Linked DNA regions of Homo sapiens: region 1 is linked to region 2. A link means that fine-mapping ties the variant in region 2 to the plasma level of a protein whose gene starts in the linked region. Region 2 holds a variant in brackets. A gene starts in the other region. All regions are shown on their reverse strands.

Region 1 (9,769 bases), not on the chromosome of region 2:
CAGTAATCTATTATAGTCTGGAAAATTAAGTCTTCCTGGAATACAACAGGACCTCACCGCAGATGTCAAATACGAGTCCACCAGCTTAAGGGTCCCTGGTGAGGATGACAGAAACTTGAGAAGCTACACTTATCAAACATCCCACAACCTAACTCATGAAAGTTGGCTGAGACGCCTAAGTGCTGAGCGTCGGAGGCTGTCACTTGTTTATGATCCACATATCAGAGTGCTTGTTTCTGCCACGTCTCCAGCCCGGGAGTACTGCAGGGCCCTGGGGCTCTTTACCCACGTGCACACCCTCAGTCAGGGGCAGCAAAGTTTTTGTGCGAAGAGCTGGATTGCGGCTGTTTTTGCCTCTGCAGGTCACACAGTCTCTTGCAACTACTCAAGTCTGCACAAAACCAACCTTAAAAAATAAAAGGATGTGGCTGTGTTCCTATAACATTTTATTTTTTATTTTTATTTTTATTTATTTCTTTTTTGAGATGGAGTCTGGCTCTGTTGCCCAGGCTGGAGTGCAGTGGTGGGATCTCGGCTCACTGCAAGCTCCGCCTCCCGGGTTCACGTCATTCTCCTGCCTCAGCCTCCCGAGTAGCTGGGACTACAGGTGCCCACCACCACGCCCAGCTAATTTTTTGTATTTTTAGTAGGGATGGGGTTTCACAGTGTTAGCCAGGATGGTCTCGATCTCCTGACCTCATGATCCGCCCGCCTCGGCCTCCCAAAGTGCTGGGATTACAGGCGGGAGCCACCGCGCCTGGCCCCAATAAAATTTTATTTACAGAAACAGGAGGTGGCTGGACTTGGTGACCCCTGCACTAAGCGGCCCCATCCATTCCCACGGCTTGTGCACGCCTCTCAGTTCAGCATCTCCGACCTGGACCTCTCCGCTACGTCTGCCATGAACATCACTGGGTGGCAGACGACATCTCAAGCCTGCTGTGCTCACATCAGGACTCTTGATTTTCCACTGTGCTGGATGTGGTCCATTGTGTTCAGCTTCCATTCTCACCTCCTTTTGTTTATTTTCCTGTATTTTAGAACCTAAAATACAAATGCGGCAATACTGTGTTTTACAGATCCCCTTGCAGCCACAGTTCCGGGCGAGGCTGTTGGATTCAGTGCAGTTGTGTAAGATGTGAAAGGCAGAAATGACTCGGAGGCCTCCGCCCTGCGCTGACTGCTGGCAGACAGGGCTGTGGACACTCAGCCGTCGCTGAGGGAGGCCTGGGCAGCAGGGGTGCAGCATCAGGATTCCCGGCAGGTTCCTGATCTCAGAATCACAGCTACCCAAGTTTCCTCTTAAGCTCGGTAGTCCCAAAGGCCACCTCTCAGCTATTATACCACCAACTCATCCAGCGATTCTATAATATTCCCCATAATAAATCCATTTCTACCCCTGCCTGATACACTCACCGAACCTCTCTCATCTTCCCCTCCGAAAATCTCTATCACGACTTAGTTCCAAACAGAAGGGAACAGCCACACCAGGAATGTGAACAGGAAAAACATTAACATAGCGAATCGTTACCTAGTAAGATGACGTTAACAGCGGAAGTCAAGAAAAGAGGACACAAAGGGATTCAGAAGCAGCAAATGCAGAAAGATGCCGCGATGGCTGGGCTTCAGGAGCAAGGAAGGGGCCGGGAATGCACAGAGCTGCCAGGGGTGCGTGGCCCAGCCAACCTGGTGCATCAAATTAACTGTCGCATGCGGTTAATACCTAAGAACCCTTTTATTCTTTTCCTGTTTTAGAATTTTTTTGACAATTGAACACATTTTTGCATATGAACTTTAAATTTGTGTTTTCCTATTTTTAACATTGGAAATCTTACTGGAATTAAATATTTATATTCATTTGAGGAGCTGTTTGTTTGTTTGTGACAGAGTCTCGCTCTGTCCCCCAGGCTGGAGTGCAGTGGTGCAGTCTTGGCTCACTGCAACCTCCACCTCCCAGGTTCAAGCGATTCTCCTGCCTCAGCCTCCCTAAGTAGCTAGGATTACAGGTGCCTGACACCAAGTCCGGTTAATTTTGTATTTTTAGTAGAGATGGGTTTTCACTATGTTGGCCAGGCTGGTTTCCAACTCCTGACCGCAAGTGATCTACCTGCCTCGGCCTCCCAAAGTGCCGCGATTACAGGCATGAGCCACAGCGCCCAGTCTCGTCTTCCCATCTTGTTCAGAGGATTACCGGTAGGGTAATGAAAATCGTAAAGCGTTAGCCATCTGAACAGGTAACCTTAACCTGTTCTGTTTTATCAAAAACATAATTTAAATCCAACTGTCCTTTCACACACCCGTGAATTTATATTTTTATGTTTTACTGTTTTTGTTTTTGCTTTTGTTTTTGTTTCGAGACAGAGTTTTGCTCTTGTTGCCCAGGCTGAAGTGAAATGGTGCAATCTCGGCTCACTGAAACCTCCGCCTCCCGGATTTAAGTGATTCTCCTGCTTCAGCCTCCCGAGTAGCTGGGATGACAGGCACGCACCACCACATCTGGCTAATTTTTGTATTTTTAGCAAAGACAGGGTTTCTCCATGTTGGTCAGGTTGGTCTCGAACTCCTGACCTCAAGTGATCTGCCCACCTCGGCCTCCCAAAGTGCTGGGATTACAGGCATGAGCCACCGTGCCTGGCCTACTGTTTTATAACTAAAATTTTCAAGTGAAAAGCCACAAGATCTTTGTGTTGTCTATGTTTTTGTGTCTTTATGTCTATATGTGATTTTAATTTACAAAGAACTCTATTTAATTGGCATAAAGAAAAAAAGCACTTAAATCAAGTAATCTAAGAGCATACAGTGTATACTATTTTTATACTATATTTAAGAAATATAGGGACAAGCACAGTGGCTCATGCCTATAATCCCTGAACTTTGGGAGGCCAATGCAGGAGGATTGTTTGAAGTCAGTTTGATACCAGCCTGGGCAACAAAGTAAGACCTCTTCTCTACAACAAAAACAAAAATAGCTGAGTGTCTCTATTAAAGTATAGATAGATAGATAGATAGAAGAAAATACAAAAATAAAATCATTCTGCAAACTGAGTTCATCATATTACTTCACTCTGTGTCATTCTTTTAAAACCCTGCACCTGCCCAACCTCTGCAAAAGTACAACTGCTAACAAGTAATGCTGGCGCAGCACTTTGACATGATAGGGAACACCTGTGAGACTGATCAAATGAAAGGCCGACTTAACCCAATAGCTACTCCTTCCAAATTTCCTTCCAGCTGCTCAAATGTGGTTCAAATGGTTTTGACACTGACTTAAAATTGCTGGCCATTCTCCCAACATGGCACCAAGTCAACCTGGACAGGAAGGGATAATCGAAACCTAACCACAGGATAATTGATCAGTGATGTCTTCAGAGAATTTTTTTTTTTTTTTTTTGGGGACTGAGTCTCACTATCACCCAGGCTGGAGTGCAATGGCACGGTCTCAGCTTACTGCAAACTCCGCCTCCCGGGATCAAGTGATTCTCCTGCCTCAGCCTCCCAAGTAGCTGGGATTACAGGCACTTGCCACCATGCCCAGCTAATTTTTGTATTTTTAGAGGAAACGTAAAAATTGCCAATATCAAGATGGAGTCACTTGTGTCGAACCCAAACAAAATAAGAGGTTAAGAAGGGGTGGGGGCCTTCATGCACACATGCCTATGAAAAGAACCATGACAAAACTCTCTGAGTGGCTGGACGCGGTGGCTCACGCCTATAATCCCAGCACTTTGGGAGGCCGAGGCGGGCAGATCACAAGGTCAAGAGATCGAGACCATCCTGGCCAACATGGTGAAACCCCATCTCTACTAAAAATACAAAAATTAGCTGGGCATGGTGGCGGGCGCCTGTAATCCCAGCTATTCGGGAGGATAAGGCAGAAGAATTGCTTGAATCCGGGAGGTGGAGGTTGCAGTGAGCCGAGATTGTGCCACTGCACTCCAGCCTGGCGACAGAGCGAGACTCTGTCTCAAAAATATACATATATAGTTATTATATTTTATCTACTACTTTGTGTTAGTTCCTGTTTCATTCCTTTATGTTACTTATTTTTTTTCCATTTGTAAGATATATACTAAGCTTTTTGAATCGTTTCTTCATTAATAATGTAGTCACGAGGCTGGGTGGCTTACTTCTGTAATCCCAGCACTTTGGGAAGCCAAGGCCGGTGGATCTTTCGAGCCCAGGTGTTCAAGGCCGGCCTGGGCAACATGGTGAAACCCCACCTCTCCCAAAAATACAAAACAAGTAGCCGAGTGTGGTGGTGCATGTCTGTGGTCCCAGCTACTTGGGAGGCTGACAAGGGAAGATTGTTTGAGCCTGGGAGGCAGAGGTTGCAGCGAGCTGAGATGCTCCACTGCACCCCAGCCTGGTTGACAGAGTGAGACTCTGTCTAAAATAATAATAATGAAGTCTTTTTTTTTTTTTTTTTGAGATGGAGTCTTGCTCTGTCGCCCAGGCTGGAGTGCAGTGGTGCAATCTCCGCTCACTGCAAGCTCCGCCTCCTGGGTTCACGCCATTCTCCTGCCTCAGCCTCCCGAGTAGCTGAGACTACAGGCGCCCGCCACTATGACTGGCTAATTTTTTTTTGTATTTTTAGTAGAGACGGGGTTCCACCATGTTAGCCAGGATAGTCTCGATCTCCTGACCTCGTGATCCACCCGCCTCGGCCTCCCAAAGTGCTGGGATTACAGGCGTGAGCCACCGCACCCAGCCATAATGAAGTCATCTTAAAATGACTATAAATTTTCCTCAGAACATGTAGGGTCCAGCCGTACGGGGCTTAGTGGGTGTTCTCCCCGTGTGCGGAGATGAGAGATTATAATAAATAAAGACACAAGACAAAGAGATAAAGAGAAAACAGCTGGGCCCGGGGGACCACTACCATCAAGAGGAGGAGACCGGTAGTGGCCCCAAACGGCTGATATTTATTGCATACAAGACAAGGGGACAGGGTAAGGAGGGTGAATCTTCTGAGTGATTGACAAGGTGAAGCATGTCACGTGATCACAGGACAGGGGCCCCTTCCCTTTTAGGTAGCTGAAGCAGAGAGGGAAGGCAGCAAACGTCAGCGTTTTCTTCTATGCATTTCTAAGAAAGATCAAATACTTTAAGACTTTAACTATTTCTTCTACCGCTATCTACTGTGAACTTCAAAGAGGAACCAGGAGTATGGGAGGAGCATGAAAGTGGACAAGGAGCGTGACCAGTGAAGCACCACAGGGAGGGGGTTAGGCCTCCGGATGACTGCGGGCAGGCCTGGAAAATATCCAGCCTCCCACAAGAAGCTGGTGGAGCAGAGTGTTCCCTGACTCCTTCAAAGAAAGGAGACTGCCTTTCGCAGTCTGCTAAGTAACGGGTGCCTTCCCAGACACTGGCGTTACCGCTTGACCAAGGAGCCCTCAAACGGCCCTTATATGGGCGTGACAGACGGCTCACCTCTTGCCTTCTAGGTCACTTCTCACAATGTCCCTTCAGCACCTGACCCTATACCCGCCGGTGATTCCTAGGTTATATTAATGATGCAACAAAGAGTAATATTAAAAGTTAATGACTAATGTCTACACTAATGATTGATAATGTCCATGGTCATCTCTATATCTAATTTGTATGATAACTATTCTTACTGTAACTATTTTCTTTATTATACTGAAACAGTTTGTGCCTTCAGTCTCTTGCCTCGGCACCTGGGTAATCCTCCGCCCACAAGAACACAGCTTTAGCTGCCTCCTGTAGGAGTTCAGTAGGAAGGGAATCTACCTTTGTAGTGTTTGATATGTAGTTTTAAGGAAGGAGACCACCCCTCATATATATGTCTTATGCCCAATTTCTGCCTCCAAAGAAAGAAAAAGTAAAACCTAAAAGACAGAAATAAAATCCACAGGCAGACAGCCCAGTGCCGCGCCCTGGGCCTGGTAGTTAAAGAGGGACCCCTGACCTAACCGGTTATGTTATCTGTAGATTCCAGACATTGCATGGAAAAGCACTGTGAAAATCCCTGTCCTGTTCTGTTCCGTTCTGATTACCCGGTGCACGCAGACCCCAGTCACGTACCCCCTGCTTGCTCAATCGATCATGACCTCTCACGCAGACCCCCTTAGAGTTGTGAGCCCTTAAAAGGGACAGGAATTGCTCACTCAGGGAGCTCGGCTCTTGAGACAGGAGTCTTGCCGATGCCCCCGGCCGAATAAATCCCTTCCTTCTTTAACCTGGTGTCTGAGGAGTTTTGTCTGCGGCTCTTCCTGCTACAGTTTGTAACCAGATTATTTCTGACAAGTTTTGATCCAGGGTTTTTTTTTAAAGATTTGTCAATTTCAAAATATTTGTTTGCTCCTGCTTCCTGTTCTCTCTCTCCCTTTTTTTTTCTTTTTTTAAGACAAGGTCTCACTCTGTCACCCAGGCCGGAGTCTAGTGGTGGGATCACTGCTCACTGCAGGATCCAACTCCCAGACTCAACAGATCCTGCCGACTCAGCCACCGACCCCATAGCTGGGAATACAGATGTACATCATCACACCCAGCTAATTTTTAAAGTTTTTTGTCGAGATGGGTCTCACTGTATTGCCCAGGCTGAGTTTTCTTCTTCTTTTTTTTACATTTTGTTTGCCTAGAATTGTATTTGATTGTAATCAAATCATGTGTCACATCTTTTTTTCAATTTGTGTGATTATTTTGTGGCCCAATACATGATTTTTTTTGCGAATATTTCATGGACTTAAATAGATAAGTCCTCTCTCTACACATAATTAAATGGAGTGTGTGCTTTGCATTATTCAGTTCCTTTATTCCCATCCTTGCTTTTGTCTGCAGATTTGTCCTATTCCAGAATGGGTATACTGAAACTTGGGTAAGGGTGAGGCCAGCGTTCTGGGTGGCCCAGGCTACTATCCCACCCGTGCCACAGAATCCACACAGAGGCCCAGCGGCGGCACTGGGTGGTGGGGAAGGGGGAGGCGGACCCAGGTTGGGGGGGCAGGCAGTCAGTGCGGTTGCCAGGAAGCGGGAAAGGGCCACAATGGGGTCTGGGAGGTGGGCGGGGCGGAGCGGGGATGTCCAGCCACGTCGCTTTGTTTTCCCACGCTAGGAGCTACCACAACAGGTCAGTGCACCTCGGGGCACCGGGTCCCCCACGCAGGCCCTTCCCGGGGCACCCTTTCCCAACAGCACGAAAATCTCCTGCCCCCACCCCACCCCCAGGTGATTCCCTTCACCAAGTCTGGGTCTAGACTTGGCCCCCGCGAGTTCACGTCCCTGCCTAATGCGCCTGGAGTCCGGGTGATGGCCCTGGATCCGCTCCCGGCCCCAAGCTCCACACAGCCGGGAAGGAAGCTCGCGTTTGTTTTGCTGGCGCCAGGGATACGGTCCAGGCCCCGCCCCGCCCCGCGCTGATCCCAGGGTAGTGGGAAAGTGCGCTCCCCAAGAATTTGCGGTGCAGGGGCCGCGGCCACCGCCTTCTGTCCGCAGGTGCTGCGAGCCGTAAGCGCCCCCCACCCGCGCTATGGGCTCGGACGCCTGGGTGGGCCTTTGGCGGCCACACCGGCCCCGCGGCCCCATCGCGGCGCACTACGGAGGCCCCGGGCCCAAATACAAGCTGCCGCCCAACACCGGTAGAAGGGGCAGGCCCCGGGATTGAGGGGTGGGACGGCGCCTGGGGGAGGGAAGGGGAAGAGACCAGGGAGGCCTGCGCTCGGGGCTGAACCGTGCCTGCTAGAGGGGAGAGGGGGTCTGTGCCGGGGGAGGGTCCGTGTTGCAGATGGGGCTTGGGGCTGGGCCCGGCCAGACGCTAACTCGGATGCTCCCAGGCTACGCCCTGCATGACCCGTCGCGGCCGCGCGCCCCCGCCTTCACCTTCGGCGCGCGCTTCCCCACGCAGCAGACGACGTGCGGCCCCGGGCCAGGCCACCTGGTGCCCGCTCGCATGACCGTGCGCGGCACCGACGGCGCCCCCGCCTACTCCATCTACGGCCGCCCACGCCGCTCAGCGCCCTTCCTCACTCCGGGACCTGGTCAGGACCCCCGGGCCCCTGGCCACCCCAACGCCGAACTGCCTCCAGGGAGGCCCACCTGGGAACCCCCGACCTGAACCCCGAGTCCCCCTCGGATACCCTAACACCGCATATTCGGTACCCCCATATCCGGATCTCAAATCCCAAACCCCGAACCCCACGGGGCTTTGATAAATCGTGGCTCAGACTCCCCACTAGTCCCAGGACCCCATCTCGGGTACCCACCAGGCTCCCACGCAGTTCTAGCCCCCCACACCCTTGATCCGCCCCGCAGGCAGGTACTTCCCGGAGCGAGCGGGGAACGCGACGTACCCCAGTGCGCCTCGGCACACCATTGCTCCCCGAAACTGGGGTGTCCAGGCGGAACAGCAGAGCCCAGGTGAGGTCAGAACGGCCCATCCCAGAACTGTGGGCCTTCCCACTCGAGACCGGGGACCGCCCTCCGGGAGCTGGGACCACCCTGCGCCTGTCCGCGGAGACCCACTACCCCCGAGCCCTGCCTCCTCCCCAGGTCCCGCGGCCTATACGGTGCCCTCGCTCTTGGGTCCGCGCGTCATCGGCAAAGTCTCCGCCCCAACTTGCTCCATCTACGGCCGCAGAGCGGCTGGCAGTTTCTTCGAGGACCTCAGCAAGGTGGGGGAGGGGCCGGGGCGGACGCAGGGGGTCCCTGGTCCGCGGCAGTGGAGGCGGCAGCCAGCACCCTCTGCCCTCTCGCAGACCCCGGGCCCCTGCGCCTATCAGGTCGTGAGTCCAGGGGTCTACAAGTCCCGGGCCCCCCAGTTCACGATTCTGGCGCGGACTTCGCTCCCCCAAGACAACACTCGGAAGCCAGGGCCCGCGGCCTACAACGTGGATCAGGTGGCCTGGAGCCCAGGGTCAAGGGTCAGAGTCAGGAGAGTGGGGAGGGCCTGAGGTCGGAGTGATGGGATCAGAGTCCCCGGGGGTCCAGGGGTCCCGGCGCGGAGAGGATGCCGGCCCCGCGAGGTCAGCGGTGTCTCCGGGCCCGCAGCACCGGAAGCCCCGCGGCTGGAGTTTCGGGATCCGGCACTCGGACTACCTGGCCCCGCTGGTGACCGACGCGGACAACTGACCCGCCAGGCGGGAGCGGCCCCACACGTGTTTGCTTAAAGTCTGCGAGTCCGCATCGTGTCCGCCTCTCTCTCTCTCTCTCTGCGCGTCCTGGCGCAAGGCCTGGGGTGGAGCCACGGCTGGGGCCGTGTCCCAACTCCGAACCCAGCGGGGCGGGGCCCGAGCGTCGGGCGAGGCCGGGACCCCAGCGCTGCGCCGCGTCCGAACGTCGAGACCCCACCGAGGGCGGGAGGGGGACTCTCGGGAGCCACAGACGCCCGAGACCCACGCCGGGCGGGACCGGCCAGGGATCACCCCCGCCGACGGCCCCGGGCCCCGACGGCCCGGAAGTTCCGCGTGTCCGGGGGCACCGGGGGATTGGCCGGGGCGCGGCGTGCAAGGCTTCCCGGGGGCGGCGACTGCCGAGCTCCGCCCTCCAGGCGGCCCCACCCGCCTGCCGTCCTGGGGCGCCGCCGCCCCGCCGCCGGCAGTGGACCGCTGTGCGCGAACCCTGAACCCTACGGTCCCGACCCGCGGGCGAGGCCGGGTACCTGGGCTGGGATCCGGAGCAAGCGGGCGAGGGCAGCGCCCTAAGCAGGTACGGGCGGGGCTCAAGTCGCGAGGCGGGGAAGCGGGAGGCAGACACGGACGAGGGCGACACAGACACGGGACCGAGGGGCGGACACCGGAGAGACACGGGA
Region 2 (17,032 bases):
TTGCCTTTGCTACAGCCGGTGCCCGTATAGCCCAGCCTCGCTCCGGCCGCCCGTCCTGTCCCCCAATTCTAGGAGGGGTGCATCTTTCTCCAGGAAGCCCTCTCCGACCGCTGGCTTCCGTGGCCTCTGCGCCCACCCCCCTGCCCGCCCCCGGGCTACTTACATTTTCTCCACGGCCTCATGGGGAGCTGAGACGGACAGTGGGGTTCCCCCTAGTCCGGAGTGGGACATGCTCTCAGCCAGCCTCTCCCCCAACATGTGGGAGGGCGGGGAGGGAGGAATGTACTCTTCTCCCCCTCCCCCAACAGGAAACAAGTCGCCCACGCCCCCAGCTTGGAGGGGCCACCTCGAGTCTTCCCAGGCAGCAAGTGTCTCCATTCCACTGCCTCCCCCTCTTCCTACCCGGGCAAATGACTTGACTTCTCCGTACCTCTCCACTTCCTTGCCTATGAAATGGAAATAATGTGTACCCACTCTCCTGGCAGTGAGAATTAAGTGAGTTAATGCATTAAAGCAGTTAGCTCGAGGCTTGGCTCCAGGAAGCTCTCTGTGTTAAACAAATCGGCCCCAGTCCTGACCTTAGAACTACAGGAAGGGGTTCCCCAGAAGGTGGGGATTTCCAGACTCCGAGTAGATGGGGGAAGGGAGCGGTCTGCTACAGGATTCCTGGTGTCCAATGACCTTGAAGAAAAAGGCCACAAAAATCTGCTTTCCGCACATTTCCAGGCACTGTTCTAGGCGCTGGGAACACAGCAGTGAACAACACAGATATCCCTGCCTGCGTGGAGCTGATATTCTAGTGGGGGGACATAAGGCACGAATAAGCAAGTGGGATCAGCTATGACAATGACAAAACAGTTACGGGATGGAGAGCTGGAAGGGGATGTCTTAGATCCAGGGCTCAGGAAGGACACCTCTGCGGAACTAACATGTGAGCTTAGAACCCTCCATGACAAGAAGGATCCAGGTGCTATAACGTCTGAGGGAAGAGCATTCCAGGCCAAAGGAACAGCATGTGCAAAGGTGCTGAGGTGGGAATACATGTGGTGCTTTGGAATAAAGTCATAAAGGCAGTGGTGACACCTATACTGGTAAGAGATGATGTTTCAAAGGTGGGCCCATCACATGGTGTCTTGAAGGTCTTGGTGGGGACTTTGGGAATTATTTTGAAGGCAGTAGGGTGCCATGGAGGGTTGTGAGGAGAAGGACCTGTGGAGTGTGGGATTCAAGCTGTTCACACGGCATCTGAGGATGTGGGAAGAGGGGTGGGGTGGGGGAATGTCAATGAAGTCTAAACGAGGCCGGGTGTAGTGGCTCACACCTGCAATCTCAGCACTTTGGGAGGCTGAGGCCAGCGGATCACCTGAGGTCAGGAGTTTGAGACCAGCCTGGTCAACAGGGTGAAACCCTGTCTCTACTAAAAATACAAAAATTAGCCAGGCATGGTTGCACGCACCTGTAGTCCCAGCTACTGGGGAGGCAGAGGCAGAAGAATCGCTTGAACCTGGGAGGTGGACACTGCAGTGAGCCAAGATTGCATCACTGCACTCGAGCCTGGGAGACAGAGGTAGGCTCTGTCTCTAAAAAAAAAAAAAAAAAAAGTCTGAATGGATCATCCCATATTATTTGATCACTTTCTTATACCTGGGGACACTGCGGCCAAGAGAGAACAGTTACTTGTCTGTAGCCATGCAGCTGCCAGGCAGCACCCACAGAGCAGCCCGGTACCCAGCCAATGCCAAATGGCTGCTGAAATCTGCCAGCCACAAGCACTTTCCCTCTCACTGCCCAGACAGCAGCTCTGCTGACTTAAATTGGGACTTGTGGTTCTTCCCCTTTTTAATCACGGTTCAAACCTTCTCGCCTGCCAGATTTCTCGGAGGCCCAAACTGGTTTCCTTCCTCGCTTAGTCGCTTCTTGCCCACATCCCCGCCAGAGTCCAGTTTTTTGTTTTGGCGCTCGCTGAGACCCCAAGACTTCTCACTTTTTGTGTTTATTTTCCCTTGGAAAGGCAAAGGGATTCCAACAAATAACCTTCCCATCACCGTGCCCAGATTTGAGAGTGCCGCTGCCACGAACACAGCGAGGTCGTCGTCGCCACTGGGAGGCCGGCCAGCCACGGCTCTTCCCACTCGGCAGGTCACTGGGACCTAAGGAGAGAAAGGGTTATTCAAATTCCCATGACTGATCCGTAGCTCCCGGAAACAAGCCAGGCCGTCTTAGGGGAGCAGGTCCAACCGCCCTTCCTTCTTGCTGTGAAAAACACCAACACCTCCTGCTGGCCAAGTTCCAGAAAGCCGGAGACTCACAGGATTAATAACAATTACAGGCCACGCGCGGTGGCTCATGCCTGTAATCCCAGCACTTTGGGAGGCCGAGGCAGGCGGATCACCCAAGGTCGGGAGTTCGAGACCAGCCTGACCAACATGGAGAAACCCCGTCTCTACTAAAAATACAAAATTAGCCAGGTGTGGTGCCGCATGCCTGTAATCCCAGCTACTCAGGAGGCTGAGGCAGGAGAATTGTTTGAACCCGGGAGGTGGAGGTTGCGGTGAGCCGAGATCGTACCATTGCACTCCAGCCTGGGCAACAAGAGTGAAAATCCGTCTCAAAAAAAAAAAAAAAAAATTAAAAAGATAACGATTACAACACGAGTCAACAGCAATAAATTAACAATGATCAATGCTATTAATATTCATATTAGCAATTCGTATTAATAATAATTTAAATAACAACAAAAGTTAACTAGTACAAACACAAATACATGATAAGTGCTTGAGGTGATGGATACCTCATTTACCCTGATGTGATAATTACACATTGCATGCCTGTATCAAAATACCTCACATACTCCATAAATATATACACCTACTATATACTCATAAAAATTCAAAAAGTGGGCCAGGCGCGGTGGCTTAGGCCTGTAATCCCAGCACTTTGGGAGACTGAGGCGGTGGATCACAAAGTCAGGAGTTCAAGACCAGCCAGGCCAATATGGTGAAACCCCATCTCTACTAAAAATACAAAAATTAGCCGGGTGTGGTGGCGGGTGCCAGTAGTCCCAGCTACTCGGGAGGCTGAGGCAGGAGAATCGCTTAAACCCAGGAAGGGGAGGTTGCAGTGAGCTGAGATCACGCGACTGTGCTCCAGCCTGGCAACAACAGAGCGAGACTCCGTCTCCAAAAAAAAAAAAAAGAGTTCTCTGTTCTGTATCTCCTAGCTGTGCAGTCACATAGATTCTCTGGGCCTCAGTTTCCTCATCTGGAAAATGGGGACAGTGACAGGACTGACCCCATTGGGTTGAGGGGGAATTTGATGAGAAAACTCACATTGAGGGCTTAGGAGTGGGGGAGGTACCTCCACATAGCAACGACTGATAAAGAATGTTGAATATAGTGCAGGCTCGGTGGCTCATGCCGGTAATCCCAGCACTTTGGGAGGCTGCAGCAGATGGATCACCTGAGGTCGGGAGTTTGAGACCAGCCTTGTCAACATGGTGAAACCCTGTCTCTACTAAAAATACAAAAATTAACTGGGCGTGCTGGTGGGTGCCTGTAATCCCAGCTACTTGGGAGGCTGACGCAGGGATAATTGCTTGAACCTGGGAGGCGGAGGTTGCAGTGAGCCGAGATTGCACCATTGCACTCCAGCCTGGTGACAAGAGTGAGACTTCGTCTCAAAAAAAAAAAGAATGTGATTATAATCTATGATTGGGTGTGAGAGTCCCGTGTCCCTCGAGGGTTGTGAAGAGGAGTGGCCACAAAGACCAGTCCTGTAAACAACAGAGCTTCACACCCCTTTTACAGATGCAGACACTGAGGTTTGAGAGCAAAGATCTTGCCCAGGGTCACCCAGCCAGAGTGGAGGCCTTGCTGTCTGCATTTGTAAAATGTGCTTCTGCAGGCCTGGGCCACAGGCGAGGAGGAGGCCCGGGGACCTGGCCTGGCCTGGCCCCCAGCTGGGCAATGGCTACTGCTGGTGTTTCCCATGCCCGAGTTTCCATCACGGCACTGCTGTGCAACCTCCAAAGGTCCCCTCTTGCCACCAGCAACAGGCTCCCACTTTCTGAGCCTCAGTATCTCTGGCTTGTCAAATGGGCATGATAGTAGTTGGGTGAAGGGAAATGACATTGTGTAGGACACTTTGTCCCTAGTGGCCTTCAGTGAATGCACAGAGTGCTGAGCATTATCAAAGGACACTGCAGCACACTGGGCTCCTCCTGGCTGTTCCTCAAACTCACCTTCATGCTCCCACTTCAAGGCCTTAGCACTGGCTGTTCCCTGTGCCCAGAATGCTCTTCCACCAGATGTTTTTGTTTTGTTTTGTTTGAGACGGAGTCTCACTCTGTTGCCCAGGCTGGAGTGCAATGGCTCAATCCTGGCTCACTGCAGCCTCTGCCACCTCCTGGGTTCAAGTGATTCTTCTGCCTCAGCCTCCTGAGAAGCTGGAATTACAAGTGAAAGCCACCATGCCCAGCTAATTTTTTGTAGTTTTAGTAGAGATGGGGTTTCACCATGTTGGCCAGGCTGGCCTTGAATAGCTGACCTCAGGCAATCTTCCCGCCTTGGCCTCCCAAAGTGCTGGGATTATAGTCGTGAGCCACCGCGCCCAGCTGTCTACCCTTGCTTTCTTCACTCCCAGGAGATGTCTGACTGCCCACCAAACCTAAACCAGCCCTGCCCCCATTGCTGACCATCTCCATCTCTCTTCTGCTCCTGCTTTTTTTCTTTCTTTTTCTTAGAGGCAGGGTCTCACTCCATCACCCAGGCTGGAGTGCAGTTGTACAATCATGGCTCACTGCAACCTTGAACTCCTGGGCTCAAGCGATCCTGCTGCCTCAGCCTCTCAAGGAGCTGGGACTACAGGTGCACCCCACCATGCCTGGCTAATTGTTTCTATTTTTTGTAGAAACAGGGTCTCTCTATGTTGTCCAGGCTGGTCTCAAACTCCTGGGCTCAAGCAATGCTCCCACTTTGGCCTCCCAAAGTGCTAGGATTACAGGAGCCACCGCGCCTGACTTGCCTCTGCATGTTTTTTCTTCCTCACCCTTGTGGCCCCCTGACTGATACCAGAATCATTGATTCATCTGTTTATTGGCAGTCTCTTTCCCCCACCCCCAGGAGCAGGTCAGCTCCACTCGGCCAGGCATTTGTGTGTCTTGCTCACTCTTGTGAGCACAGTTCTTGGCACATAACAGGTGCTCCTCGTGGCTTAAAAACAGTCCACACTTCTTTGACATACCTCCCTTGAAAAGGTGGAACCTGATTCCCCTGCCCTTGAGTGTGGGCTGGACTTAATGACTCCTTCCTTCCTTCCTTTCCTTCCTTCCTTCCTTCCTTCCTTCCTTCCTTCCTTCCTTTCTTCCTTCCTTCCTTTCCTTCTTTCTTTCTTTCTGACAGAGTCTTGCTCTGTCACCCAGGCTGGACTGCAGTGGTGCGATCTCGGCTCACTGCAACCTCCGCCTCCTGAGTAGCTGGGACTATAGGCACGAGCCACCACGCCCAGCTAATTTTTTGTATTTTTAGTAGAAACAGGGTTTCACTGTGTTAGCCAGGATGGTCTTGATCTCCTGACCTCGTGATCCGCTCGCCTCGGCCTCCCAAAGTGCTGGGATTACAGGCGTGAGCCCCCACACCTGGCCTTAATGAGTCATTTCTAACAGAGACTAAAGTGGAAGTGACGCTGTGTGACTTCTGAGACTGAGTCATAAGAAGCATTTAGGCTTCTCCTTGTACTCTCTTGAGCCATCCACTCTGGGAGAAGCCAGCCACCGTGTCTTAAGGACACCCAAGTAGCTTTATGGAGGTCCGTGTGAAGAGGAACTGAGGCTTCCTGCCACCAGCCAGCAAGGAACAGAGACCTCCTGGCAACAGCCAGGACTGAAACCATCACTTCCAACTATCCTGGAAGTGAATCATCCAGCCCCAGTTGGACCCCAGATGAGAACAGTCCTAACCCATTTTTGTTTGTTTGTTTATTTAAAAGACGGGGTCTTGTTTCATTGCCCAGACTGGAATGCAATGGCTATTCACAGGCACGATCATATAGCACGATCTATAGCCTTGAACTTCTAGGCTCAAACAATCCTCCTGTCTCGGCCTCTCAAATAGCTGCAACTGCATGTGCGTGCCACCAGCCCATGTTTCGGACTACCATCTCAGGAGTGAGAGACCCTGAACTACAAGCTAAGTCAGATTGCATGTGAATTCCTAAAACCATATGAGATAATAAAGGTTTGCTGTTTTAAGCCAGTAAATGCAGGAGTAATTTGTTACCCAGCAATCAATAATTAACACAGAGCTCAAGAAACCTTGGGGGGGTGAGGTCCAACCAACCCTTTTCCCACCCATTAGGGTCCAACAGAGACCAAGAGGGCTCAGGAAATGGTCCCCCTTGGTCAATACACATCTGCCCCAGGCCAGAAAATAATTACATTACTGGGTTCTTCCCTTTTTGCCTGGGTGGGCAGAACTCCCAAGGCCGATTCCTGGGCTCAGGGTCTGATCTGCTGAGCTCAAGTGCCTGATGTCATCTCTCCCTGTGCTTCCTTCCCTTGGATTCAGTTCTGTTTTCTGTCCTCCCAGTGCCTTAGAAGCTAAAATTGCCACAAGTCCTTCCCTAAGAAAAGCATGAACAGTATTTACAATCTGGACTCCATTTATGGAAGCGTGCGCCACACTGAGAACATCACAGGCCTTATCTCTTCCACCCCAAATGAACGGTTTGCTATTCATTTTCCCATTTGTCAGATGAAGGAACTGAGGCACAGGGCAGTGAAGTGACATGTCCATGTCACACGACTGGCAATGAAGCAGCTGGTGTGGACTAAAGACTGGCCTCACTGTAGTGCCCTACCTCTTAATCACTTACTGAGCCCAAGTGATAAAAAATGGTAATAATAACAGAATTAATGATTCTGAATTAATGGTTAATGATTTTTTTTTTTTAGATGGAGTTTCACTCTGTCACCCAGGCTGGAGTGCAATGTCTCGATCTCGGCTCACTGCAACCTCCACCTCCTGGGTTCAAGCGATTCTCCTGCCTCAGCCTCCTGAGTAGCTGGGATTACAGGTATGCACCACTACGCCCAGCTAATTTTTGTATTTTTAGTAGAGACGGGGTTTCTCTATGTTGGTCAGGCTGGTCTCGAACTCCTGACCTCATGATCTGCCTGCCTCAGCCTCCCAAAGTGCTGGGATTATAGGCATCAGCCACCACACCCGGCCCAATGATTAATGATTAATTAATGTTCTTTTTTGTCCTTTTTTTTTGGGGGGGGGTTGGGGGAGGGAGTCTTGCTCTGTCACCAAGGCTGGAGTGCAATGACTCGATCTTGGCTCACTGCAACCTCTGCCTCCCGGGTTCAAACGATTCTCGTGCCTCAGCCTCCCAAGTAGCTGGGATTACAGGCATGAGCCACCACGGTTGGCTAATTTTTTGTATTTTTAGTAGAGATGGGGTTTCCCCATGTTGCCCAGGCTCGTCTCAAACTCCTGACCTCAAGTGATCCGCCCGCCTCGGCCTCCCAAAGTGCTGGGATTATAAACGTGAGGCACCTCGCCCGGCCTAATTAATAATTCTGAGTGATTAATGAATTATTAGAGGATTATGTGCCAGGGACTACTCTGAGGGCTTAGTTTAGGTAGATTACAATTTACTTTGCCCAACAACTGTAAGGAGAGAATGTTGTTTTCCCCCATTTGACAGAAAGGAAACTGAGGCACGAAAGGTGAAGTGACTTCCCCAATTCACGTGGCTGGTAAGTGGCCCAGCAGCGATTTACACCCAGGCTCCCCAGTTCTGATCTTGACCAAAAACAGCGGCGGCCGCGCACCCCAACCCCAGACCCCCGCTTCCACCTTCCCCCGCCCCAACCTCAGCCTGCGAGCCGCCCCCTCTTCCGCTAGCCTGGGGAATCTGGTTTCTGGGGGAAGTGACTCAGTAGCCTGAGGCCCAGTAGATAATTATTCACTTCCAATCCCGGTAATTAGAGTCCCTAATAGCTCCGCAGAGGACGTACAACCCAGTTACCCCAGCCGTCCCCACCCGTGACCCGGGATCAACGTGGGGCACGCGAGCTCCTGGGGCCGGGACTTGGCCGCAGTCCCAGGCATCAGGCCCTGAGGGTGGTAACGCGCGGTGGCAGCCACTTGGTGGCAGCCGCTTTGCGCGGGGCTCTGGCGCCCCCTGGTGGCTGTGGGGCGATCGAGGGCTGGGAAGCGGCCTCCTAAACTCCCCTGCCTCACTCTTTCTCCCGCAAAGAACCTTCCTCTTGGATTCCCCCCAAGCCTTCCTGGAAGCTTCCCAGGCTCCAGGTTGGATGCCTCTCAGCCACCATCGAGTAGCCATCAACGTTGAGTACACGGGTTTGGGGACAGCTTAATGGCTAGCTTCTCCCTTCAGTGCTGGGTCACCTTGGGCAAATGACTTGGGCTCTCTGAGCTTCAGTTTCCGCATCTGTAAAATGGGAACAAAGAATGAGGACACCAGTGGGGCGTGGTGGCTCACGTCTGTAATCCCACCACTTTGGGAGGCCGAGGTGGGAGGACTGCTTGAGACCAGGAGTTCGAGAGCAGCCTGGCCAACAGGGTGAAACCCTGTCTCTACTAAAAATACAAAAATTAGCCTGGCGCGGTGGTGCATGCCTGTAATCCCAGCTACTTGGAAGGCTGAGACAGGAGAATTGCTTGAACCTGGGAGGGACAAGTTGTAGTGAGCCGAGATAGTGCCACTACTCCAGCCTGGGTGATAGCGTGAGACTGTCTCAAAATATATAAATAAATAAACAAATAATGCTGACTATTACTAGCTAAACCTGTTCTCAGGTCTTTCTTTTACAATGAGGAGTGGATTACTAAGAACAGCTTAATCCTACCCGCCTCATTTAATCTACATTAAAAGAAGCATCAAGGCCAGGTGCAGTGGCTCACGCCTGTAATCCCAGAACTTTGGGAGGCCAAGGTGGGTGGATCACCTGAGGTCAGGAGTTCGAGACCAGCCTGGGCAACATGGCAAAACTCTGTCTCTACTAAAAATACAAAAATTAACCAGGCGTAGTGGTGCATGCCTGTAATCCCAGCTACTTGGGAGGCTGAGGCAGGAGAATCGCTTAAACCAGGGAGGTGGAAGTTGCAGTGAGCTGAGATCATGCCATTGCACTCCAGCTTGGGCAGCACAGCGAGACTCCATCTCAAAAAAAAAAAAAAGCATCAAAATGTTAGCTAAAGCCAGGTGAGATGGCTCATGCCTGTAATCCCTGCACTTTGGGAGGCTGAAGTGGGAGGATCACTTGAGCTCAGGAGT[C/T]GGAGGCCAAGCTGGGCAACATAGTGAGACCCCCATCTCTAAACAAACAAAAATGTTAGCTAAAGTACAGAGGCAAAAGAATTGAAAACAGGCACTCAGACAGATACTTGTACATGAATGTTCATAGCAGTGCCATTCACAATAGGCAAAAGATAGAAACAACTCATGTGCCCACCAGGGGATGAATGAATCAAGACAATGCTATCTATACAATGGAATATTACACAGCCATAAAAAGGACCGAAGCATTGATATATGCTACAATGTGGATGAAACTTGGAAGCATCATGCTAAGTGAAATAAGCCAGTCATAAACGGACAAATATTGTGTGATTCTGCTTATGTAAAGTATATAGAATAGGTAAACCCCTAGAGACAGAAAGTAGACCAGTGGTTGCCATGGGCTATGGGCAGCGGGAATAGGAAGTAACTTCTAATGAGTATGGGGTTTCCTTTAGGGGTGATGAAATGTTCTGGATCTAGACTGAGATAAATGATGGTGGCACAACACTGTGAATGTACTAAATTTAGTTACTTCATGAGGCCGGGTGCGGTAGCTCAAACCTGTAATTCCAGCATTTGGGGAGGCCAAGGTGGGAGGACTACTTGAGCCCTGGAGTTAAGAGACCAGCCTAAGCAACATAGTGAGACTCATATCTCTACAAAATAAAATAATAATAATAATAATAATAATAATAATAATATTCGGGCAAGGTAGAATGCGCCTGTAGTCTCAGCTACTCAGGAGGCGCTGTGGTGGGAGGATCACTTGAGTCCAGGAGTTTGAGGCTGCAGTGAGCGGTGATCCTGCCCCTGCACTCCAGCCTGGGTGACACAGCAAGATTCTGTCTCTAAGTAAATGAATAAATTTAGTTAATTCACTAACTAAAATTAATTAATTCATTTTGTTATGTGACTTTCACCTTAAATTTTTTAATGTGGAAAAAGGTGTTAGGATGCACCCTGCCCTCTCTATTCCTTCAGCCCTATCCCCCCACCCCACCCCCATCCTCCATCTCCCATCCTGTTGCCCAGGTGATCTTGACCTCAAGATGCAGATGTGCGGCAGAGGCTGGGAAGTTCTTCTCCCACACCCCCAGAACCTGGCAGAGGCTGGGGCTGCTCCCACAGAGGAGGTGACATATGTACGGGCCACTTCTCGCCTGCAAATCAGCCAGGGTGGCTTCCTGGTTCTAGATCACCAACTTGAGGCCTCCTGAGCCCCTTGCCAGCCCAAGGGGACTTGGGCAGGGCCTGAGGCTGCAGAAAGGCATGGGGGTGCCCGCCCCTGGAGCTTGTCCACCTGTGCCCTCTGCACTGGAGGAGGCAGCAAGCAGGGCCTCTCTGGGGTGTAAGATGTCAAGATGCTCAGAGAGGGGCAGAAGGTGTCAGAGGGCACTGGGTGTGGTGGCTCACGTCTGTAGTCCCAGCACTTTGGGAGGCCAAGGCGGGCAGATCGCTTGAACTCACGAGTTTGAGACTAGCCTGGGCGACATGATGAAACCCCCATCTCTCTCTCTCTCTCTCTCTCTCTCTCTCTCCCCATATATATATATATATATATATATATATACACACACATATATGAAAAGAGGGTGCCAGAGAGGGAGGCAGGAGTTGAGGTCATGGCCGGAAGGGCCCCGAGCCAGGAGAGTGCCCCAAGCCAGCAAGCAGGGTGCAAGGTGCAAGGAGCTGCACTTTCCTCTGCCCTCTGTGGGGTTCTCAGGCCTATCAGACCAGACCATCAGTCACCCAGATGGAAAGGGATTATCTTCAGAGCCTCAGGCACCTGAGTTACTTCCTTTCAGAACTCAGACAGGGGTGGGCTTGAGCTTATTCTTGGGTCAAGAGCAGGACACTGGGGCCAGCTGCCTGGGTGCGCCTCAGGGCTCTGCCACATAGACCTGCTGTGTGACCTTGGGGGAAGTCACTTCATGTCTCTGAGGCAACTGGGGCCACAGGGCCATAGAAAGGAGGAGAGGAGAGAGGGGAGTATTTGGCAACACTGTTAGAAGCAGAAGTAGAAAGCGGAGGGTGGGGCTGGAGGGTGGGGAGCGCAGCTGACCCTGCGTTTCCCTGCTGGAAGCCACTCACCGTGAGGCCGAAGTCGAAGTGGACATGGGCTGTGGCTGCCTGACTTCCCCTTGTGCTGGTAGAAGCACCTGATTTTCCATCCAGTCGGAGTTCAAGATGTTCTCTGGGGCTAACCCTCCCTCCCATGCCCCAGTGACTGGTTCAAGGGTGGGCAGGGCCAATGAGCCTCAATTCCAGTCTTTAACAGCACAGTCGGATAAGAAAATACCTCATTTGGGCTGGGCACGGCGGCTCAATGCCTGTAATCTTAGCACTTTGGGAGGTCAAGGCAGGCGGATCACTTGAGGTCAGGAGTTCGAGACCAGCCTGGCCAACATGGTGAAACCCCATTTCTACTAAAAAGTACAAAAATTAGCTGGGCGTGGTGGCACGCCTGTAATCCCAGCTACTCGGGAGGCTGAGTCAGCAGAATCGCTTGAACCTGGGAGACAGAGGTTGCAGTGAGCCGAAATCGTGTCACTGCACTCCAGAGGACATGAGCTTGGAATTTCTGAGGGCTGTCTTGCCTGGGAGTGAACACACTCATAGTAGAGCAAAGCCCAGAGACAGAGAAAAACCATCTTGATGACAATGTCTGTGCACCTAGATCCAGCCATACCTGAAAGCAGTCACTCTTGGACTTCTCAGCTCTGTAAGTCAGTCATTTCTTTTTGGCTGAAGCCTGTTTGTGTGCAGCTTTTAGCCACTTGGCAATGGCCAGAGAACAGCACTGGGTCCTCCTAGCAATCATAACACCCAAATGTGCTTTGTGGGCTCCTCATACCTGAAACAGGAGACTGGGATGGTCCTGTTTGCATCTATTGGGTTGACTGGAATGGCCCTGGGGTTGGACGTTTGCAGCACCAGGCAGCAGAGGAAGGCTGAGAGGAGTTAGGGCCCCATAAGGTCAAGAGAATACACTGCCCCTCAACTTGAGATTTGTTGAGCCCCTACTATGTGCTAGGACTTCTCCAGGCACTGGGGATACAGTGGGGAACACAGCAGACATGGTGTTTGTTCTCATGGTAGACAGGCAGTTGGAAAGTGAATCCTTAAATACAAAGTGACAAGTTAAATACCCTTAAATACAGAGTGACAAGTTCATGGGCCATGAAGCTCACTGAATTCTTCTAACAACCCTTATCATCTCCATTTTCCAGATGAGGAAACTGAGGCTCACAGAGGTGAAGTGACTTGCCCAAGGTTGCACAGCTACTCAGATTCTAAGCTCGGGTTTACTTGCTCGCTGTGTGACTTCAGGCAAGCCGCGTCACCTCTCTGTTTGGTTTCTTTATGTTTAAAATAGAGATAGTAAAGTCTTTCCTAATTATCAGTGTCATGGTAAGAAGCAAAACCCTCAAGTGCTCGGTAAACATTAGCTATTATTTTTATTTTATTTTATGTTTCTGAGCTGGAGACTTGCTCTGTCGCCCAGGCTGGAGTACAGTGGCACAATCTCAGCTTGCTGCAAACTCTGCCTCCTGGGTTCAAGCCATTCTCCTGCCTCAGCCTCCCAAGTAGCTGGGATTACAGGCACACCACCACGCCAGCTATTTTTTGTATTTTTAGTAGAGACAGGATTTTGCCATGTTGGCCAGGCTGGTCTTGAACTCCTGACCTCAGGTGATCCACCCGCTTCAGCCTCCCAAAGTGCTGGGATTACAGGCGTGAGTCACCGCGCCCAGTCTGTTTCCCCTGTTTTACAGATGAGGAGGCCAAGGCACAGAGAGGTAAAGTGACTTGCTGAAGGACACACAGTTTGCAAATGGCAGAGTGGGGATTAGAACCCACTCATGCATATTAAACCCATTAATTTCCAGCCTAATGCATGGTTACAAGTTGCTTTTTACTATTTTTAAAAATTTTGGCTGGGCGTGGTGGCTCACGCCTGTAATCCCAGCACTTTGGGGGCCCGAGGCGGGTGGATCACGAGGTCAGGAGATCGAGACCATCTTGGCTAACACGGTGAAACCCCGTCTCTACTAAAAATACAAAAAATTAGCCAGGCGTGGTGGCGGGCGCCTGTAGTCCCGGCTACTCAGGAGGCTCAGGCAGGAGAATGGCGTGAACCAGGGAGGCGGAGTTTGCAGTGAGCCGAGATCGCGCCACTGCACTCCAGCCTGGGCGAAAGAGTGAGACTCCGCCTCAAAAAAAAAAAAATTTTTTTTAAGAGACAGTCTCGCTGTGTTGCCCAGGCTGCAGCGCAGTGGCTATTCACAGGCACGATCATAGCGCACTACAGCCTTGAACTCCTGGCCTCAAGCGATCCTCCCGCCTCAGCCTCCCGAGTAGATGGGACTGCAGGTGCGGACCACCACGCCCAGCACAAGTTGCTTTATGAGTCTGGGGCTTCACCGGCAAATGAAAGACCTCCTCTGCTCTTCTGCAATCCTGGATGCGACTCAGGAACCATGCCTGCCAGCCTCACCTCCCTTCAGCTCCTGACCCTGAAGAGCCAGAAGGAAAATAAATCCCACGAAATCTATCTACAGAAGGCAGCCATTCTGGGTTTCTGGGCGGGAGTTGGTTGGTTGTGGGTTTTGCTAAAGCAGTACTTGGATAGGATTTTTTGGATTTGAAGTGGAGAGTGCTAGGTGGTTAGGAATACCAGCTTTGTGGGCATGGTGGCGCATGCCTGTAGTCCCAGCTACTCGGGAGGCTGAGGCGGGAGAATTTCTTGCCAAGATCGCGCCATTGCACTCCAGCCTAGGCAACAAGAGCAAAATTCTGTCTAAAAAAAAAAAAAAAAAAAGGAACACCAGCTTTGGTGACCAGTAGGCTAGCACCCGCTCTGCCTCTTCCTGTGAGAACACTGGTGCCTCACTCACCATCTCGGAGCTTTGGGTTGAGGATTCACAGTGAGGCACCATGTCAAATAAACACAGCCCCGGCCCCAGGCAATACCTCTTCGTTGCTTTGAGCAGGTGAAATTTAGAAATTGAAATTGCCCCTTGGGAGAAAATGTCCAGGAATTTGGGTGTCTGTGGCAGGGGTCTGGGGGGAAATGAGAGGCTCCCTTAAAGGAGGGACAAAAGGATAAAGGGAGAAGTTGCCAATGCCAGCTTTTTTTGTTTGTTTGTTTGAGGCAGGGTCTTGCTCTGTCGCCCAGCCTGGAATGCAGTGGCGTGATCACTCACCGCAGCCTCGACCTTCCAGGCTTGAGTGATCTTCCTGCCTCAGTCCCCCAAGTAACTGGGAGTACAGGTGAATGCCACCACGGCCAGCTAATTTTTATTTTTATTTTTTGTAGAGAGGGAGTCTTGCTATATTGCCCTGGCTAGTCTTGAATTCCTGGCCTGAAGCATTCCTCCCGCCTCAGCCTCCCAAACTGCTGGGATTACAGGTGAGAGCCACCATGTCTCATGTGCCACCTTTTAAAGCAGGACTCATAAATCCTGCACTTGCCAGGTGTGGTGGCTCACACCTGTAATCCCAGCACTTTGGGAGGCCGAGGTGGGCAGATTGCCTGAGCTCAGGAGTTTGAGACCAACTTGGGCAATATGGCGAAACCTTGTCTCTACTAAAAATACAAAAAAAATTAGTCAGGCTATGTGGTGCACACCTGTAATCCCAGCTACTCGGGAGGCTGAGGCATGAGAATCACTTGAACCCGGGAGGAAGAGGTTGCAGTGAGCTGAGATCATGCCACGGCACTTCAGCTTGGTGACAGAGTGAGACTCTGTCTCAAAAAAATAAAAAAATAAAAAAAAATTAAAACAACAACAACAACAAAAACCCCTGCACTTGAGGCAGGGGATGAGCCGGCAGGACCTTCCAGGTCTTTGGGACTTCAGCAAAATTCACTCACACACAGCAACCCAGCCCTTGGCTGGTGTCTCCTTTTTCCCATGTATATACCAGGGGAAGGGGACCCTTGAAGTGGAGGGACTCTGGCCCTCACTATCGCTCCCCCTTCCTCCATGTCCTGCCCAGTGTGGAGCCAGGCCAGCGTGTTTGTGGTGGAGGATGATTTCGGTTCCCTCTTGTGGGTGGCTGGCTCAGCCCACTTCTTGGGTGGGGTGGCCATGGTGGAAGGAAGCTCCGCCTCAGATCCCACCTGGACCACCATCTGCCCCTGCTGGTGGCTAGGTGAAGAGGGGCATCACTGCCATCAGTCCAGAGACTGAGATCTGGATGCCAAACAGCGGGGCCAGGGGACACCAGGTCAGCCACTGACTCATATCCTCGTCACCAAGCACCTGCTATGTCCTGGGCACTGCCAGGTGCTGAGACACAGCGGTGAACAAGGCAGACCAAACCCCCTGCCTTCCTGGACCTGCCTTCCAATGTGGGGAGAAGCCCGCCAAGGGTACATCCATAGTTATCAAGCCCAGATACGTGACCTGCAATTGGCTTCTCCTGGTTTTTCTCCTATGTCACTGGCTGTATCTTCTCATTTCCTTTGTGGGTCCTGCCACATCTTCCCAACCTCCTGAGAAAAGCCCACAGGCCTCCATGATGTCATCTCTCCTCTCCCCTCCTCTCTGCTGCAGCCACATGGCCTCCTGCCTGCGGGCCTCTGCATGTGCTGTTCCCTCTGCCAACAACGCTGTTCCCTGGCCATCTGCATGGTTTGTGCCCTTATTTCCTTCAGGTCTTTGCTCAAAGGCTGCCTTCTCAAGGAGGCCTTCCTCGGTCCCCTCCTAGTAAAATGACAAGCCCTGCAACCCATCCTCATGAACAATTCATATCCTCTTGCCCTGCTTATTTTTCTCCTGGGCTCTTAACTTCAATTCATGGACTGTACGAATGTTATTTACTTATTTTCCCCTCTGGTCAGGAAGGGCAGGGGCACTTGTCTTGTCTGTCTTTAAAAAAATAATAAGTTAAATGAGGTGAAGTTCCTATAACATAAAACTATTTTTTTTTTTTTTTACATAGAGATGGAATCTTGCTATGTTGCCCAGGATTGTCTTGAACTCCTGGGCTCAAGTGATTCTTCTGCCTTAGCCTCCCAAGAGGCTGGGACTACAGGTGTGAGCCACTGCGCCCAGCAAAACTAACCATTTTATTTATTTATTTATTTATTTAGAGACAGAGTCTTGCTCTGTCACCTAGGCTGGAGTGTGGTGGTGGCAGGATCATGGCTCACTGTAGCCTCGGCCTCCCAGGCTCAAGTGATCCTCCTGCCTCAGCCTCTGAATAGTGGGACTCCAAAAAAAAAAAAAAAAAAAGCCCAGTGTACAGGTGTGAACCACCATGCCCTGCAAAACTAACCATTTAATTAATTGTTTAATTTTTTTGATAGAGTCTTGTTCTGTCACCCAGGCTGGTGTGGAGTGTCATGATCTCAGCTCACTGCAACCTCTGCCTCCTAGGTTCAAGTGATTCTTCCACCTCAGCCTCCTGAGAACCCCGGAATTACAGGCAAGCACCACCATGCCCGGCTACCTTTATATTTTTAGTAGAGATGGGGTTTCGCCATGTTGGCCAGGCTGGTCTCAAACTTCTGACCTCAAATGATCCGCCTGCTTTGGCCTCCCAAAGTGCTGGGATTACAGGTGTGAGCCACTGTGCCTGGCCATTGCCTGTCTTTTTAACTTCTATCCCTGGTGCCTGGGACAAAGCAGTGCCCAGTAAATACTGGTTGAAAGAATGGCTAATGGGAAGCAGCGAAGGCCTCTGACTTAGCGGGAGGGGAAGGGTTGGGGTCACA

Direction of the effects. Alleles are on the strand shown, and positions count from the first base shown. The strength of an association depends on the size of the effect and on how common the allele is.
With allele C in place of T in region 2, the plasma level of the protein whose gene starts at base 9,558 in region 1 is higher (weak association).

What was found. A credible set is the group of variants that fine-mapping cannot tell apart. PIP is the posterior inclusion probability: the model's chance that the variant is causal. Protein levels are from antibody-based Olink assays in UK Biobank. Linkage for the fine-mapping came from a reference panel and not from the study's own genotypes, which makes the PIPs less certain.
Region 1: TYMP starts here. The variant in region 2 is the best candidate, but not a certain one, in a credible set for the plasma level of the TYMP protein (UK Biobank, PIP 0.78).

The regions. Positions count from the first base shown.
Region 1 is chr22:50,529,801-50,539,569 of GRCh38, reverse strand. TYMP (thymidine phosphorylase) reads left to right here and starts at 9,558. Exons shown (of 10, transcript NM_001953.5): 1 at 9,558-9,666. CIMAP1B (ciliary microtubule associated protein 1B) reads left to right here and starts at 7,072. Exons shown (of 7, transcript NM_001014440.4): 1 at 7,072-7,093; 2 at 7,459-7,601; 3 at 7,797-8,000; 4 at 8,275-8,379; 5 at 8,512-8,633; 6 at 8,718-8,858; 7 at 9,010-9,144. The coding sequence starts at 7,493. The coding sequence ends at 9,090. RefSeq lists enhancers at 1-90, 1-160, 191-240, 8,133-8,638 and silencers at 7,091-7,140, 7,331-7,520, 7,551-7,760, 7,841-8,000, 8,351-8,460 and 3 more.
Region 2 is chr12:111,388,256-111,405,287 of GRCh38, reverse strand. It overlaps LINC02356 (long intergenic non-protein coding RNA 2356), which reads right to left. Exons shown (of 4, transcript NR_187522.1): 3 at 8,415-8,457; 4 at 1,978-2,150. It also overlaps a transcript of SH2B3 not described here. Among named protein-coding and RNA genes, the nearest start is that of SH2B3, 9.2 kb to the left of the region's middle. RefSeq lists an enhancer at 1,909-2,158. The variant C/T (reference allele first, on the strand shown) is at 9,304.